Regions from separate parts of the Homo sapiens genome. Here region 2 is linked to region 1. The links come from fine-mapping of genetic effects on plasma protein levels. Region 1 holds a variant in brackets. A gene starts in the other region. All regions are shown on their forward strands.

Region 1 (8,336 bases):
GAGCTTCCTTCTCCTTCATCCCGGACCTCCTGGGGCACCTTCCTCCAGCAGGGCAGTCCTCTGAGGTTGACCCTGCACGGTCCCTTCTGGGGACCGGGTTCCAGCACTCCTCCTGGCTGAATCCCACATGCAGCCAGGCTAGAGGGCTTTGCAAGTGGCAGGGGAACACCTCGATGCCCAGTTCTCGGGACCCTGCCTTACCTCCCATGCTAAGGGCATCAGGAGCCCGGGCAGCATCCATACCTCACCTCACCTCCCTCCCATGGTCCATGGGGTCACCAGGAAGGCCAGGCCCTGGGAGCACCAGTGGGGAGGCACCCCTCGCAGTGAACCTGAAAGTTTATTATCCAGTCCACACACACCCAACCTGTGCTGTGGGCAAGGTACTGTTCACAGGCTGGGGACACAGTACTTGTCCTCATTGAGAAGGTCCCCAAGGCCCAGCTACATAATTTCCAGGGCCTGGTGCAGAATGACACTGTAGGGCCTCTTGTTCAAAAATGTAAAAGATTTTGAAGGTAGGGATAGCAGGGGCCCTTCTCCCTGCACAGGTCCCAGCCCACGAAGCTGTGGGTGGGCACATTCTAGAACAGCACTAATGCCCTGTACATGGGGAGTGGGTCATTAGGCCTGAGCCACCCATGGGCCCTGGGTGAACTCAGGTGCAAGAAGTGACTTTGGAAAACATCCGTCCATTTCCCACTTTAGCACTGGAAACACCAGTGCGGAGAGAGGGGCTCTCAGCCTGCTCAGGGCTCAGGCAGGGCAGCGACCAGCACCCGCAACCTGCATCGGAGCCTGAGCGTTGCACTGCACCCCCTCCTCACCCTCCCTGCTTTGGAGAGGGTGCAGGCTGTGCAGGAGTGGAGGTCTGAATGAACTCAGGTGTGGACGTGTGTTGGGAAGACACTGCAAGGCCTGGCCCTGCCAGCAAGGTAAGGAAGAGAGGATGATGTGTGTCCCCACCCTAGGCCGAGAGGAGCCCCTGACAGTTAGCCTCACACATGGCTGAAAACCATTTAGAGAATTGACACTCTGACCTCAGCATCCTCTCAGTCCACAAAGATTGATTCCTGGGGACCATGCCGTTCTGTCTCTGGCTGGATTTTTCTTTTTTGAATTGAGGTAAAATACACGCCACATGAAATGTATCGTTTTAACCATCCCCCCTCTGCAGCCCCTGGCAACCGTCAATCTGCTTTTTGTCCCCACGGATTTGTCTATTCTGGACATTGCATCCAAATGGACTCCTATAGCATCTGGCTGGGTTTCAAATGATCCTGGCTTCCATTTGTTGAACGCTGATAATCCCTGTGTCAGCATATGCTGGGCGCTTCTATCCGCATTATCTCAGCTCATCCGCACAACAGCCTAACAGCTGGCACATCTCACAGAGGGGACAACTGCTCTCAGAGAAGCCATTCAGACAGCAGCTGGCAGTCCCCAAGCCCTCTGACCTCAAGGACCTCAAAGACTCTGGCGTGGCGGAGTCGAGCCGGCCGTGTCAGGGAAAGAGCGGGACTCATCTTTGTGTCCAAAATAATATGAGCAGTCACAGGGGAGCTCTGAGGGGCTCAACACCCTCATGTTCAGATGCGGAGAGGCCAAATGGTGGCAATGCCTAAGTCCTCGCCAGGAGGCAGTAGCAGAGCTGGGCAAGTAGGCGAAGAGTCTGGGGGGCTCCAGCCCCCCTCCAGCAGTCAGCCCCCAGTCTCTATCTCAGCACCCCCTGGGGAAGGCCCAGGGTAGAGCTGACTCTCCACCCACAGCCAAGGGAGGAGCCTGGCACCTCCTTCATTTCCTCTCCTCATTTAAAGAATTACCACCCCTGAGGGGTGTTTGCTTTTTGAGAGAGAGAGAGAGAGAAGAGAGAAGAGAGATTCGTCTGCACAGCTTGCGTATCCCATGGATGGCAGGAGTTAATAAGAGAGTCTTCTCCGCAATTAATACCCTTGTTTGGTCACAGGATGGGAGCATCGCCGTCCTCTGTTGATCTGCCTGGAAGACCAAACTCACCACCCAAAGCGGAACTCCCCTGGGGACGTTTTGTTCCCAGCATTCCATGGCAGCTGCAGAAACGGAACACAGCTTGCTCCTCCAGGGACCCGGCCAAGTGCCTTGGGTGGACAGGCCCAGGGATGCGGCAGGACAGCCAGGCCTGGGGGTCTGTGCAGGGAGGGGCAGCAGCTGAGCCCAAGATGGTGCCATTCAGGGCCCAATAACAGGTAAAGTATTATTAGTGAGGGTGCCAGGAATGAGAGCACTCATTGTGGGTGGCGTCGCCAAGTCAGAAAAGGATAAACCAGATGAATTCTCAGGTGCTCACTTGGTGTGGGAGGCCTGGGTTGAACTCACACACATAGGTGGATACAAAAACACATGTGTGGGTAGGTGGCTCTGCTCGCTGAGAGGGCCACAAGCAGCGTCCCCCCAGCAGCCATGAGCACAGTGCCCGCCCAGATCTTGGCCTGTCATGCTGTCCTCCATCAGGCTCCTTGGAGGAAGCGTCTGGAATCCTGTGTTGCACCATGAAATCAGGTGGCCTCAAAGAAGGGTTGGGACGTGTCACAGATATCCAGAAGCCACCCTGAATTGGCAAAATTGGGATGCTGTGAGCATCAACATAAACAATCGTAATAACAGACTGTAACCCAAAGAAGGAATAGGAAAGCATAAGTCCTTGCAGATATAAGCAAATGAATGAATCAATTGAACATGTGCTGAGCAATGGAATAATGGCATAATCTCAAAAATACTTATTCATGACAAAGGGGAAAATAGTACCTTTGCACTGGAGAAGCCTGATAGACATCATCTAATCGAGTAAGCCCTCCCCTGGGTGCCATTTCCCTGGCAACACCTATGCTCTCCCGCGCTGGGGCTTTGCTCACCTGTGCGTCACCTGACATGCCCTCCTCTCTGCTCTCGGCTATTAAAATCCTACCTATGATTCACACCTGGCTCCAAGGCCACACCCTCCCCAGCGCCTTCTCTGACCACTCCCACCAAAAGTGACTTTAGATCCTATTTCATTCATTCACTCAATGCTATTATGCTCCTACTGCATACTGAATGAGAGGATGCCACTGAGGATACAGGAAACACTGATCAGGGAGCTCCCCGGTCTGCAAGGGACAGTAGGCAGGTGACCCTCTCATGAAAGGGGCCTCTTGTGTTTTATGGCTGGGCTGGAGCTAAGGCAAGGTGGGAGTGGGGATGTTTCAGGTAAAGGTGTTGCAAGACAGTGGGTATGAGTCATCCCCAAGTCCTGAGCTCAGCGTGACTGGTCGGGTGGCAAGATGGAGAGGAGAGGAGAGTGGCACTGCTAGGAAGCCCCCTGTCAGGGAGACAGAATTCCATCCAGGACTTACGTGTCACTAGCATTTTGCTACAAACCAAATGGTCCTTGGTTGGCGGGAAGCCCAGTCTGGACCCTGGTCCACTGTGTGGGTTTGGGAAACCCCCTAACCTCTCTGAGTTTCCAGTTCTTCGTCTGTGACATCAGGGGCTGGGTTGAACAGTGTGTGGGTAAGCTGGAATCCAAGAATTCTACCTCTGGAAGGCAGTGCAGCAGGGCGAACAGGGTTCATGGGTCTCAAGGTCAAAGGGCCAGCTGAGGGAGAGCTGGACTGTGCATGCTTGGACCGGCTGGCTCTGGGCTCCAGAAGGGACTGCCGTGTGAGAATGTGAGTTCCCTGGGAGGAAGTTGTTGCCCAAGCCCCGCTGGAAAGCCAGACTGCCCTGCTCTCTGGGGGATTCTGGTGGGAGAGGGACCAGGCCCCTTGAGCTCCTGCTTGGCCTTAGCTGCTGTGTGTGAGCAGAGAGCAGCTCCAGGAGCAGGCTTGAGGCCTCTGGCTCTCGGCCTCCTTCGCAGCTGTCATTCAGACTCCGCAGCTTTCCTGTCTTGCTAGGAGCCTGCACTACCTCTTCCCACCTGTGGGCTCCCTCCTGGCTGCGCACAGGCCTGGCACCCGCAGGTGTTCACCTGAAGGGTGAGCCCCTAGTGGCTGGCTGACGTCTGTGGGGATTGGCATGGTGACTTCTGCCCAATGGCCTTGGTGCCTTATCCAGACATCCTCCACACCTCAGACTGGCGGGGCAGAGGCTGTCAGGGGAGCCCAGCAGTGTGTGTGGCCTCGGGACATGTGGCCTCGGGCTGCCCCCCTGCGCTTTCAGAGCACCTCCTTTGGACTGGAAGGTTTGGGGGCTTCTGGAATCCTCTGAGACCTGGCTGTACCTCAAGGCCTTTCACACCAGCCCCTTGGAACTGACATCAAGACCCTAAGGCCTCGGGGATTTAGGGGAGATGGCCAACGGAGTGGGGGCCATGAGACCCACAGGGGTATGGAAGGGCTGGAAAAAATCACAGCCTTAGGGGAGACAATGGCTTCCTGTGCTTCCTGGATTCTAACGGGGGTCCTGGAGCCTTGCAGCCCACCCCCTGCCCGGTCTCTCCCATCCCTCTCCTTCCTCCTCTGGCCTCGCTCCAGGGTCTGACAGCTGCGGGCTTGACTCCCAGCCCCACCACTCACTGTGTGCTCTCAGGGAAGTCACTTAACCTCTCAGAACCTCAGTTTCCTCATCTGTAGAATGGGTAGGAGAATAGCACATTTGAACCACAGAGATGAGTGGTTAAGGATGCCTTCCCGTGTCAGGCATGTCCCGTGGTGCCTGGCACGTGGTAAGTGGTCAGGTGAGTTCCA[C/T]TCCTCCTGACGTTGCTGTGGTCACCCCGTCCTCCCCTGATGGCAGGCGCTGGGGAAGCAGCTGTGGTCTGCAGAGGCTCAGGCCCTCCTGAGCCGCAGCCTTGTCTCAGCTCCAGCCAAGAGCTGCAGGAATGTGGCTTGCCATACCACAAACTGCTCTCTCGGGTGACCATGGAGATTCGGACTTCTCCTGTGAAAACTCCTGAATGTTAAGTGGAGGTAGTGCAGCGTTGGCAGTCACTGCCCTGCCCGTGTCCCCACCACGAGGATTGCCAGATGAAATGCAGATCAAGTGAGCCATGATCCCACCACTGCACTCCAGCCTGGGCAACACAGCAAGACCCCAACTAAAAAATACAGATTGTACAGGTTGCCAGTGAACTCTGATTAGGGATATTTATTAATTTACTTTCATAGGTCACTGTAACCTCGTGCTCTTGGGCTCATGAGATCCTCTTGCACTGATCCCCCAAAGCCCTGGGATTACAGGTGTGAGCCACGGCACCCAGCCTAAATTTGGATTTTTTTTTAGTATAAATACATACTAAATATTGCATGGGACACGCTTATCTGAAAATTTTATTTATTGTTTATTCAATATTGAAATTTAATAATAAAATTAATAAATTATTAATTTATGAAGGCCCTGTGTGCCTATGCGTGTGTGTGTGTGTGTGTGTTTATTTTCTCTCTTTATCTCTGGCAACGCTACCTGTGACTCTTCCCATTTCTGAGCATGCAAGCTCAGCTCCAACCATATCTGCACTTTTTGGCCCACAGACCTGCTCTGACCACTGGCACCCACAGCCAGGAAGGGCTGGGGAATACTCTCCTGAAACAGTGACATGCCTGGCGTATTCCACACAGGGACAGATCATTTTTTAACACTTCCCTTCTCTACATGACAAAATTACATTCAATACTAATCATGAAACAAAAGGAATAATATTAATAGCTAAAAAAGGAATGCAAGACCAGGTGCAGTGGCTCACGCCTGTAATCCAAGCACTTTGGGAGGCCAAGGCAGGTGGATCACTTGAGGTGAGGAGTTCGAGACCAGCCTGGACAACATGGTGAAACCCCGTGTCTACTAAAATTACAAAAATTAGCTGAGTGTGGTGGCGGGCGCCTGTAATCCCAGCTACTTGGGAGGCTGAGGCAGGAGAATTGCTTGAACGCAGGAGGCAGAGGTTGCAGTAGGCTGAGAGTGTGCCACTGCATTGCAGCCTGGGCAACAAGAGCAAAACTCTGTCTCCAAAAAAAAAAAAAGGAAATGCAGATGAGAATTTGCTTGCAATGACCTTTCTGTATGAAATCATGATGAGGAAAAATGGCATCAGAAAAGTGATAAAAACTTTCCTTCATGTTGATCAGTCACGATAATGGATAATGACATTATGGTTTCTATTTTCAGCTTTCTTTTCTGCAGTTGTGTCAAGTGATTTTGTCAACATTGGTCTTCCTCATGGACTTGTGTTGAATAGCCAGGCTTCAACACAGTGGGCTGAATAGTCAGCTCATATTCTCTCCTAGGGAATGGATGAGCATTGTTTATTAACTTCAATTTTGTAAAGTTTCTTTTTGATGAAGCAATGGGTACAAAATGTTAGAAAACGTCTTCAACGTAAGTATAACTTTGGTAGAGTTCTTTCTTTTTTCGAGACGGAGTTTCGCTCTTGTTGCCCAGGCTGGGGTACAGTGGTGCAGTCTTGGCTCACCGCAACCTCTGCCTCCCGGGTTCAAGCGATTCTCCTGCCTCAGCCTCCCGAGTAGCTGGGATTACAAGCATGTGCCACCACGCCTGGCTAATTTTGTATTTTTAGTAGAGACTAGGTTTCTCCATGTTGCTCAGGCTGGTCTTGAACTCTTGACCTCATGATCAGCCAGCCTCCGCCTCCCAAAGTGCTGGGATTACAGGCATGAGCCACTGCACCCGGCCTCTCAGAGATTTTTAAAAATCCCATTTCACAGTACATTCCAGAATGGGCAACATTGTCGAGGTCTTTATTTCTCTGGGATCAGTTCTAGCAGTTTTTGATTGCCTTCACCGTAGAGAAATATTGAGTGAAAATGGAAACTCCAAGTGAAAACGAAAACTCTAAGTGCTGATGAAAGTAACTCAAGCTCTGTCTTTTCGCCCTCACAGCCTCTGGGCTGTAGCTGCTTATTCTGAGTATCCTGCTGGGACCTAAGAACATGAGACCCAGAGGTTTAGAGACGGAAACTGCACCTGAATGAGCTGGAGAGGTCCTGGAGCATTAGGAATTCACTCTCGAAACAGACGCTTGTAGCTAAATATGCATGTCAGGGCTGAACCGGGTGGGAGTTTGCAGAACTAACTTCTACATGTACAATATAAAGTTTATTAAAGAATGAATAATAAAAAGTGTGAACTTGGAGCTTCACATATATCATTAAAACTCAACAGTTAACCCTGGAAATATTCTGGAACTTGAATGAACAAAAGATCTAGGAACCTGGAAAACATCTCTGATGATGTTTAGAATTGTCTGTGCATGGTAATAATAAAAACACTGATTTATAGTTGGTCATATTGAGAGGTGAAGCCGGTTGGGCTTCTGGGTGGAGTGGGGACTTGGAGAACTTTTCTGTCTAGCTAAAGGATTGTAAATGCACCAATCTGCGCTCTGTGTCTAGCTAAAGGTTTGTAAACACACCGATTAGCACTGTGTAAAATGGACCAATCAGCACTGTGTAAAATGGACCAATCAGCGCCCTGTGAAATGGACCAATCAGCAGGATGTGGGCGGGGTCAAATAAGGGAATAAAAGCTGGCCACCATGTGCCGCCAGTGGTAACCTGTTCAGTATGCTTCTGTGTGATGCTTGTTTTTTTTTTTTTTTGCTGTTTGCAATCTTGTTGCTGTTGGCTGTTTGGGTCTGCCCTGATTGTAAGACACCCATGGCAAAGTCTGCAGCTTCACACCTGGATGAAGTCAGCGAGACGGTGAGTCCACCAGGAGGAGTGAACAACTCCAGACCCGCCACCTTTATAGAGCTGTAACACTCATCGCGGAGCTCTGCAGCTTCACTCCTGAAGCCAACGAAACCACGAACCCACCAGGAGGAACGAACAGGTCTGGACGTGCCATTTTTAAGAGCTATAACGCTCACTGTGCAGGTCTGCAGCTTCACTTCTGAAACCAGCGAGACCACGAACCCACCAGGAGGAATGAGCAACTTTGGTTGCGCTACCTTTAAGAGCCGGAACACTGACTGCGAAGGTTTGTGGCTTCACCCCTGAAGTCAGCGAGACCACGAACCCACCACAAGGAAGAAACTCCGAACACATCTGAACATCTGAAGGAACAAATTCCGGACATGCCATCTTTAGGAACTGTAACACTCACCGCGAGGGTCTGTGGCTTCATTCTGGAAGGTAGCGAGACCAAGAACCCACTGGAAGGAGCAAATTCCAGACCCAATATTATTGTAGAATTCTCTCCAGAGTGTGGGTGTGGTGGCTCAGGCCTGTAATCTCAGAGCACTTTGGGAAGTCAAGTTGGAAGGATTGCTTAAGGCCAGGAGTTTGAGTCCAGTCTGGGCAACATAGTGAGACCCTGTCTCTGCAAAAAATTAAAAAATCCAGATGTGGTAATGTGTGCCTGTGTCC
Region 2 (8,331 bases), not on the chromosome of region 1:
GTAGAAGTGGTACCCTCAAGGCAGAAGCCTGTACTACTTCCCCTCAGCTATGTTTTGGAATTAAAAAGTCACTTTCTTTCTACCAGATCTCTCTCTTGTTAATTGGACTTTGCAAGCAGTGAGCAGCTGGACCTGTGTTCAGTTACAGTTTCTCAACTGAGAAATGGAACAACAAAGAGCATTTGCCTCTCATCAGGCAGTCTTAAGGATTCTGTGAGAGAAGCACACAATGGTGCTGGCATTTATGGACCACTCAGTGAGCCACAAATCTCACAGTCTTGATGGGGGATGTCTTTGTAGCAGAAGCTAATGATGGCTGAGGAGGAATAAGAGGTCATCATAACTGCACTTCAAGAGCAACCAAAATAATGGGTTTCAGGTCTGTGAGATGGGGTGGACTCGGGAATACTGAATAAATGAAGGTGACTTGAAGTCAAACCCTCTGAGAGTGATGTCCTACCTATAGGGTAGACATAAGTTGGTTCATAGTTTCATATCAGGGAACCCCAAAGAGTCATAATGGGTTTGTGTGACAGTTTGTATCCACTTGCTTCTAGCATGGCTGTGATGGCTCCAATGCCAACCACCTGGCAGTTTGAAGGCCTCAGCAGAAGTGTGCTGGCTCTACACTGGCTGTCATTGTGGTGCAACCTCAAGAGTTCTAATCTGTATGCACCATTAGCAGGGTACAAGGAGTCAGAGGCCCTAGAAGGGGAGGGCAACAAGTCCCAAAGCTGACTTGTTCATCCTCAGGGAGTTCCACATCCTCCAGAAACTGGCTGAGAGTGGCTCTACCTGCAGAGGTGCCCAATAGAATCATGCTGACCCCCAGAGGGTATAGAGGAGAACTGCAGTGGAGGGACAGTGGTAGGGGGCAGGGAGAAGGGTAGGTTGTGAACGAGAAGTTCTTAGGCAGAGCAAATAAATAGGAGCACAAAGATTTAACTCAGAGCAAGATGTACAGGACTGAATAATGTTTTTTCACAAGAATTTCAGTGAAAAATATCTTTACCAGAGCAACAGCAAAAACTAAAAGCAAATGGTATTCAAAGCTTTGCAAGGGCAAAGTCCCAGGTGGTGAGTGCAGTGTATGGGTGGGGCTGAAAAGAGGAAATGGGGTGGAAGACTGCATTGAGGCAATGGATGGGGACAGAAAGACCTTTTCAGCTGCTCTGCTGAATAGCATTTTCAAACCTTGCAGGGGATTGTAATTCTCAACAGGCCAGAAACTTTTCCCCAGAGCCAAGACTGGGGTTCAGAGGCCAAGTGACTGCCCAGCCTACATAGCAGGTATATAGCAAAGCCATGATTTCAATTTGGTCTTTCTGGCTATATAAGTCCTGCTCTTTCCAGTACATCATGCTGAACTAAGTTCTCTCTTACTCTTTTTAAAAAGAAAAGATCTCAAACTTCTGAAGAACATCTCAGTTTTCTGAGAAACTCTTGCTAAAGGAAAAGAAAGAGAATGAAGTGGCTGTTGCCCTGTTCTCTGAATGGTCGTAGGTGATTCACTTCAGGGAGCCTGCTGTCTTGGCATGATTCCACTAATGGTCAGAAACCTCCTGAATATTGATCGAGGTTTCCTCTAATTTCCATCCAGACAGACAGTGGAGTGATGGGTATCACAGGGTGGGACTCCTGGACCTTATGTGGGACAGAATGAATGCAAGAGACCAGACTTGCTCCTGAGCAAGTTCCAGGTAGGACCCCTGAATGTCTCCCTGGACACTCTTGTTCCATTCAAGGTGACAGCAGGATCTGCTTTTCCCACACTGTTCCTTAGAGCCCAAAGAGCCCCTTCCACTTGGTAGCCAGCATTCAATGGGCAAGGGAACAAGTCTCCCTTTCTTTAGATTTTGTCTTGGCTCATGTGAAGATTCTGTATATAGAATAAAATATTTTTCCCATTGACTTCCTTCACTGAGCACAGATTTAACTCAGAAAGAGTGAAATAAAATTAGCTTTATTTCACTCTTTATGATTAGAACAGTAATACATGCATTTTTAAAAAATCAAAACTAAATACTAAATCTAGAGCACGGGTTGGCAAATTATGGCCTGTGAGCTGGCCAACACTGTTTTGGTAAATAAAATGTTATTGGAACACAGCCATCCTCATTCGTTTACATATGGTCTATGGTTGTTTTCCTGCTACCACAGCAATGGCATTGAGTAGTTACGGCACACACCTGAAAAGCTTAGCCTATTTACTCTCTTGCCTTTTACAGGAAAAGCTTGCTGATTCCTGAGCTAGAGCTAGAGAAGCAATGAGGACACATGTTTATTCTGACCCTGCAGAAGTTTGTAGTTCTGACACATTCCTCTATAAATAGCTGTTTTCAGAGCTGTAAAAACATTCAGCATTCAGCCAGACAATAAAGAGGCATTACAGTCCTATGGGCAGGAAAACAATTCTCTCCAAATTGTTCTTTTCTTCAATCTGCATGTTATTGCCCTTCTTAAAGCCAGGCTTTTAAGGAAGAGGCAAGCATGTGGGGTCTTGAGAAGGCTAGGTGGTACCTGGTCACCCAGACATGCAAGTGGTGTTGGAAACAGGCTGCGTGACCTCAGAACATGTCAGCCTAGAGGGCAGTAATATTAGGACATCTTCACAGGCTTTCCAGAGCCACCTCTATAGAATCCTGGGGTAGTGGGGTGACTGATATGCCAGAGACCAAGAACAACAAAGACAAGGAGGACTCACCTGCCTGTTCAGTGACTGCATCTGTGAGGAGATCAAAAGCCAGAGATTAGCACACAGCATTTGCCCTCATAATTTATAAATTTATATTACTCTGGTAAATTGCTCAAAAACTTCTTTCCATTTTCCCTTTCTTTTCTATTTCCCTAATCTCTTATTACTAACAATTCAATCTCCCTCGAGCACACATCTAACTGTCATTCATTGTAGTCAAAAGGCAAGTTGCAAACCCAATGCTTGACTAAAGGGATTGTCGAGAATACCCATGTTGGATATTTAGTGACTCTCCTTGATTTCATTTTCCTTCCACCATCCCCACCACTCTATCTCACACTCTGACTTTTCAAGTGGTAGATAGACATGACAACACGATCACAAAGGGCTCATCAGGAAACATACATTGTGAGAGTTCCAAGAAATCAACAAATCAGTCTCTTTCCTATGGCCATATTTCACGTTAGAGCCCTTTGTATTCCAATAACAAATATTTATTTAGTGCCTACACAGCATAGAGAAAGGGATCTTATTTACTCTCTCACCCAGGCTGGAGTACAATGGTGCGATCTTGGCTCACCACAACCTCCACCTCCCGGGTTCAAGCAATTCTCCTGCCTCAGCTTCCCGAGTAGCTGGAATTACAGGTGCCCACCACCACGCCTGGCTAATTTTTGTATTTTTAGTAGAGATGAGGTTTCACCATGTTGGCCGGGGTGGTCTCGAACTCTGACCTCAAGTGATCCACCAGCCTTGGACTCCCAAAGTGCTAGGATTACAGGTATGAGCCACTGCACTCACCCAGGAATCTTATTTTCTAGCAGCAGCTGTCATCTCCCTCATTGTCCACGATTAAACAGAGGAATATTAGCAAAGGGTCTCAATGCATCTGCTGAACCCAAATCTTATAGATAACAATTGAATAATCGGTGTTCATGGAGGAGAAGGGCATTGCTAAATGCTAATATTATGAACATTTTACTATGAGAACATTATATTACTCAATGAGATCTAAGATATCAAAATAGCAATTCATGACCAGCAAATGGAAAAGTGGTCCACCTTGAACATTAAGCATTGTGCTTAATGCTTAATGGATGTGCTGCAAATTCACTGTCCTCAGCCTACTTCTTTGCATCTGCCTTTGAAGCCCAAGCTGCAGGCAGGACCTGAGCATCCCCACCAGTCCCTGGGCTCCAATAAAACCTCCAACCTTTTGGGAGCAGTAGACCTCATTCAGCTGCCACCTCACTTCTCAGTCAAATTATTGAACTCACCAAAGATGACCAGCAATGACCACAGCAGCATGAGGACCTAATCCAGCTATTTGAAAAGAGATGTACTCTTGGTCACCAACTGGAGACTCTGAGCAGGCGATGAAATGTGGTTTTCAGAATAGGTTTTGTATAATTAGCAAAAAAGGAAGTAGAATAGTGCCACTATGTTTAACCATTATCTTTGTCCTGGAAGGGCTAAAACAATTATAGCTGATCCTCTCAATGCCAGAGAAATTTTGTAACTTGACCCTCATTATGATACCTAGCATTTACATATGGGTTGCAATGAGTCAGACACAGTTCTAAGTGCCTCATGCTTACAGAGTTATTTATTACCTTCAGCAAGTTTCTGAATTGGCACTATCCCCTTTCACATGAATAAGGAAATTGAGGCACTAGTAAAGGTAAGTGTCTTAGTCCATTGGGGCTGCTATAAAGAATACCTTAGACTGAGAAATTTATAAACAACATAAATTTATCACTCATAGTTCAAGAGGCTGGGAAGTTTAAGATCAAGGCACCAGTAGATTCAGTGTCTGATGAGGGCCTGTTTCTCATAGATGGTGTCCTCTATGTGTCTTCACATGATGGAAGGAGCAAACAAGCTCCCTCAAGCCTCTTTTACAAGGAGACTAATCCTTTTCATAAGAGTTCCACACTCATGACCCCTAAAAGGTCATGTAATAAAAGGTGGGTACCTTTTATTACTATTGCATTGAGGATTAAGTATCAACATAAGAATTTTGCCAGGACACAAACATTCAGATGATAGCAGCCAGTAAAATGACCAAGATCAGCTTAATCAATTTCTAGTAGTAACAGATCTGGGATTCAAACCCAGGCAGCCCAGTGTCACAGTCTGGCTCTTAAACATTGTGCCCTATTATCTTGATATATTGCTTCTCAAGGTTCATAAAATAATAAGGCCATTGTTTCAATAGCTCATATTTCTTAAGTAAAATTTTTCGTAGTCATTCGATGACTTTCTAGAATGAGATTTTACTAAACTTCAAAACACTTGCACTATATTGCTGAAAACATTGCCATCTTTCTAATCTGTAATCACAACATTGCCTATTTCTAATCTGCATTGCTTTTTGTACCCCAGGCTGATCCTAATACAGTTATCTCACACAAAGCAAAGCGCGTGTTATGTGAACACCTATTATCATGCTCACTTTGATTAGATGTAGTCCCAGTAGATGTTGTCTCATCAGTGAACCTTATGCAGGATGAAACTCTAAACCAAAAAATCACAGGTGCTTATAAATGAGGGACTGACTGAAAATATTCATAGACTCAATGTTACCTGTTCAGGTACTTAACATTTACCTGAATACTTAACATTGAATTTTTAACAATTGGATACTTAACATTTTATTCTCACTATTATCATAGTTTTACTTTGAGAAAGGCTAATATTTATATGTGATGGTCATTAAAGCCTTGCTTATAATAATGTAAAAAGAAAATACTAAAAATATATCACAAGGAGAGATGTGTGTTAAAAATAAGTTATGTGTCAAATGCTGTGGAAAACCAAACAGCCATTAAAATAATTCTGTGGAATAATATTTAATAGCAAGATAAGATGTCTAGGATATATGATTAAGAAAAAAGTGGGCTGGGTGCGGTGGCTCACGCCTGTAATCTCAGCACTTTGGGAGGCTGAGGCGGGCGGATCACGAGGTCAGGAGATCAAGACCATCCTGGCTAACACGGTGAAACCCCATCTCAACTAAAAATACAAAAAATTAGCCGGGCGTGGTGGCAGGTGCCTGTAGTCCCAGCTGTTTGGGAGGCTGAGGCAGGAGAATGGTACAAACCCGGGAGGCAGAGCTTGCAGTGAGCCGAGATCGTGCCACTGCACTCCAGCTTGGGTGACAGAGCAAGACTCCGTCTCAAAAAAAAAAAAGAAAAGAAAAGAAAAGAAAAAAGTGGCTGCAGAGTGCACTTTATCTGCTGCACATTATCCCCTGCTCTCCAATAAAAAGTGTCTGAGACAATTCGCACCACAGAGTTACTGTAATTATATCCAAAAAATCTAATTAAAGCTGATTTTTATTTTCCTTATTTTGCTTATCTGTGTATTCTAGTATTCTTACAATAAACATATGCTATTTACGTACTTTTTAAAGATTCATTATAAGAAACTAGGTTTTATGGCCTCTCTCATCTTAAAGTGTTGAAAACAATACTACTTTAACTTTCTGCATAGGCAAACGGTTTGTATGTGTTTGAAAGTGTAAGTTACTCTTTCCCAGGACCAAAGCTAGTCACTGATCATCAAATCTTGCCTACTGAATGGGTTTCTAGGTGGCCTATAATTCCTTCCCATTCTGACCAACCTGGAAGCTATAGAAATTTTGTGGATGGGAGGGAATTAAGGAAAGGAGTACAAATAGGATCATGAAAAAGTTGATGGTAAATTGATGGTAGGTACAAGTTTTTCATAGACATCAAGGAGATTTTTCAAAATAATCCATATCCCTTCACTGATTTCTATATACCCTCTATGGAAATGTGGCCTCTTCAGTTAAGAATCAATATTTCTTAAGGTGTTACCAAATGATATGAGGTAAAATTCACAGTTGGTATAAAAGGTGCAGGTGGAAAGCAGCAGTAATGAGGTGTGTGGGCCACAGAGGTGGCAACAAATCCTCTAAGATGGCTAACATGTTTCATGTGGGTGCTACTCTGTATTTGACAGACGGCAGTAATTTACAAGTGAATAGGCATATCCTGGAAGCGTAGCTAAACTTGAATGCACAGTAGGCACTGTGACCAGAGATTAAGAGGCTTAATAGACACTTGGTGGGGGGTGGGGAAAGTAACTTAAAAATTAAGGCAATAGTGGCAGAAATAAAATTATGTTTGTAGGTTTGATCAAAGTGAGAGATAATACTTTTTGTGCAAGGATATTTTGCCACCAACAGGATGGAGTCACAGGTATCAGAAAGAACCAGCATTAGACATACATATAAATGCCTCTTGGATCAACCAGGTAAACCCTTAACATGGAGATTCCACAGGTGGTAACATACTGAAGCCTATTTTGCCAGATGCAGAGCAAGAGTCATCTCTGTGAACCGTGTTCAATGTCTTGAATGGAATACAAAATACAGTGCCAAGTTGGGGCATGCCAGAACTGAGACAGAGACAAATAGAGTCTTCATAAAATATGTCAGAATAAAACAAATCACACTTCCTGCTTGATGAATTTGATTACTAGGACAGTTAGAGTGGGAAAATAAGAAAATGAAACAGGCTAACTTCCAAGATCCCTAGATATAATCTTTTGAGCTTGGGGTTCCAAGGTCACTATGAGAGAATTAAATGTCATAATATATATAAATTACTTGTCATAATAATTGCTACATAAATGGCAGTAGAAGTAGTCATAGTCATGGTCATCATCATTGTTATGGCAGTAGTGGTAGTAGCAGTTTTAATAATTACAATAATTACCTTGAGCAGCATGATATGTCTTTGTTGAGTGGGGCTTTCCCTAATAACTTCCTGTCCAAGATAGTAACTAGATACTTTCCGAGTTCTATGGAGGTGATGTTGTTTGTTGAAGAACTTCTGGGACAGAACTGGCTAGACCAAATGTTGTCTATGCAGACACTCTCCAATGTAATTTAGACAGAGCCAGGCCCTTCTGCCCAGAAGATTTTTTACAATTAAATTTATTATATCTAGAAGTCCAGTAGGGCTCTGCATGGAGCAAATAGCATGAAAGAGAATTCAGAATGGGTATAAATGCTTGGAAGCTAGTGGTCATTACCTCCATGGAAGATAATGAAGATAGTGAAAGCCCAGAGAATCAGAGAAGGCCAAGAGTAAGTTGAAGTTTTAGATAGTGTATCTCTAGGGGACTGGAGTTTAACAAAGTTCGATTTTTTCCTTCGTCATGAAGATTATCAGTTCCTTTAGTAGCAATGGAAACTATGGTAAATCCTTACTAAAGAAGGTATTACTATTCCTACAGTGGAGGTGGAGGGGAACCCAGCCTTGGTGTCTGAGGGGAGGCAGAGAGGCAGAAAGACTTAGGGAGGCTCATAGAAGACATCAGAGCAGCACCTGTGGTGGTGAGCAGTCTTCTCTCCGTGTATGAAAATACTTCCTGGCAAGTTGCCTGGGTTCCATGAGAACAACAGGTGGGGAGGGATGTCTAGAGGTCAAATTCAGTTCAAAGCTTTCTGCTTCCTGTTTTAATTGTATATGTGTGGGTTTTCCAGAAGGTGGATGGGTTATGACTTTTCAGGCCAAGGGGAGCTGTGAACCATGGGTCATCAACTACACCAACCGTTAGTAGAATCACCCACAGCAGCTTTCTGTGGGTGTCTTTCTGGCAGG

Which allele goes with the higher level. Positions count from the first base shown, and alleles are read on the strand shown. Strength reflects both the effect of a copy and how common the allele is.
In carriers of allele T in region 1, the plasma level of the protein whose gene starts at base 4,062 in region 2 tends to be higher than with C alone (weak association).

The links. PIP is the posterior inclusion probability: the model's chance that the variant is causal. The UK Biobank Pharma Proteomics Project read protein levels with antibody pairs (Olink). The fine-mapping took linkage between variants from a reference panel, not from the people measured, so its PIPs are less certain.
Region 2: FCRL2 starts here. The variant in region 1 is fine-mapped to the plasma level of the FCRL2 protein (UK Biobank, PIP above 0.99).

What each region holds. Positions count from the first base shown.
Region 1 is chr17:17,384,299-17,392,634 of GRCh38, forward strand. No RefSeq gene overlaps it. Among named protein-coding and RNA genes, the nearest start is that of NT5M, 85 kb to the left of the region's middle. RefSeq lists enhancers at 3,674-4,174, 7,737-7,966. The variant C/T (reference allele first, on the strand shown) is at 4,704.
Region 2 is chr1:157,773,071-157,781,401 of GRCh38, forward strand. FCRL2 (Fc receptor like 2) reads right to left here and starts at 4,062. Exons shown (of 12, transcript NM_030764.4): 1 at 3,973-4,062; 2 at 2,705-2,725. The coding sequence starts at 4,003. RefSeq lists an enhancer at 7,984-8,043.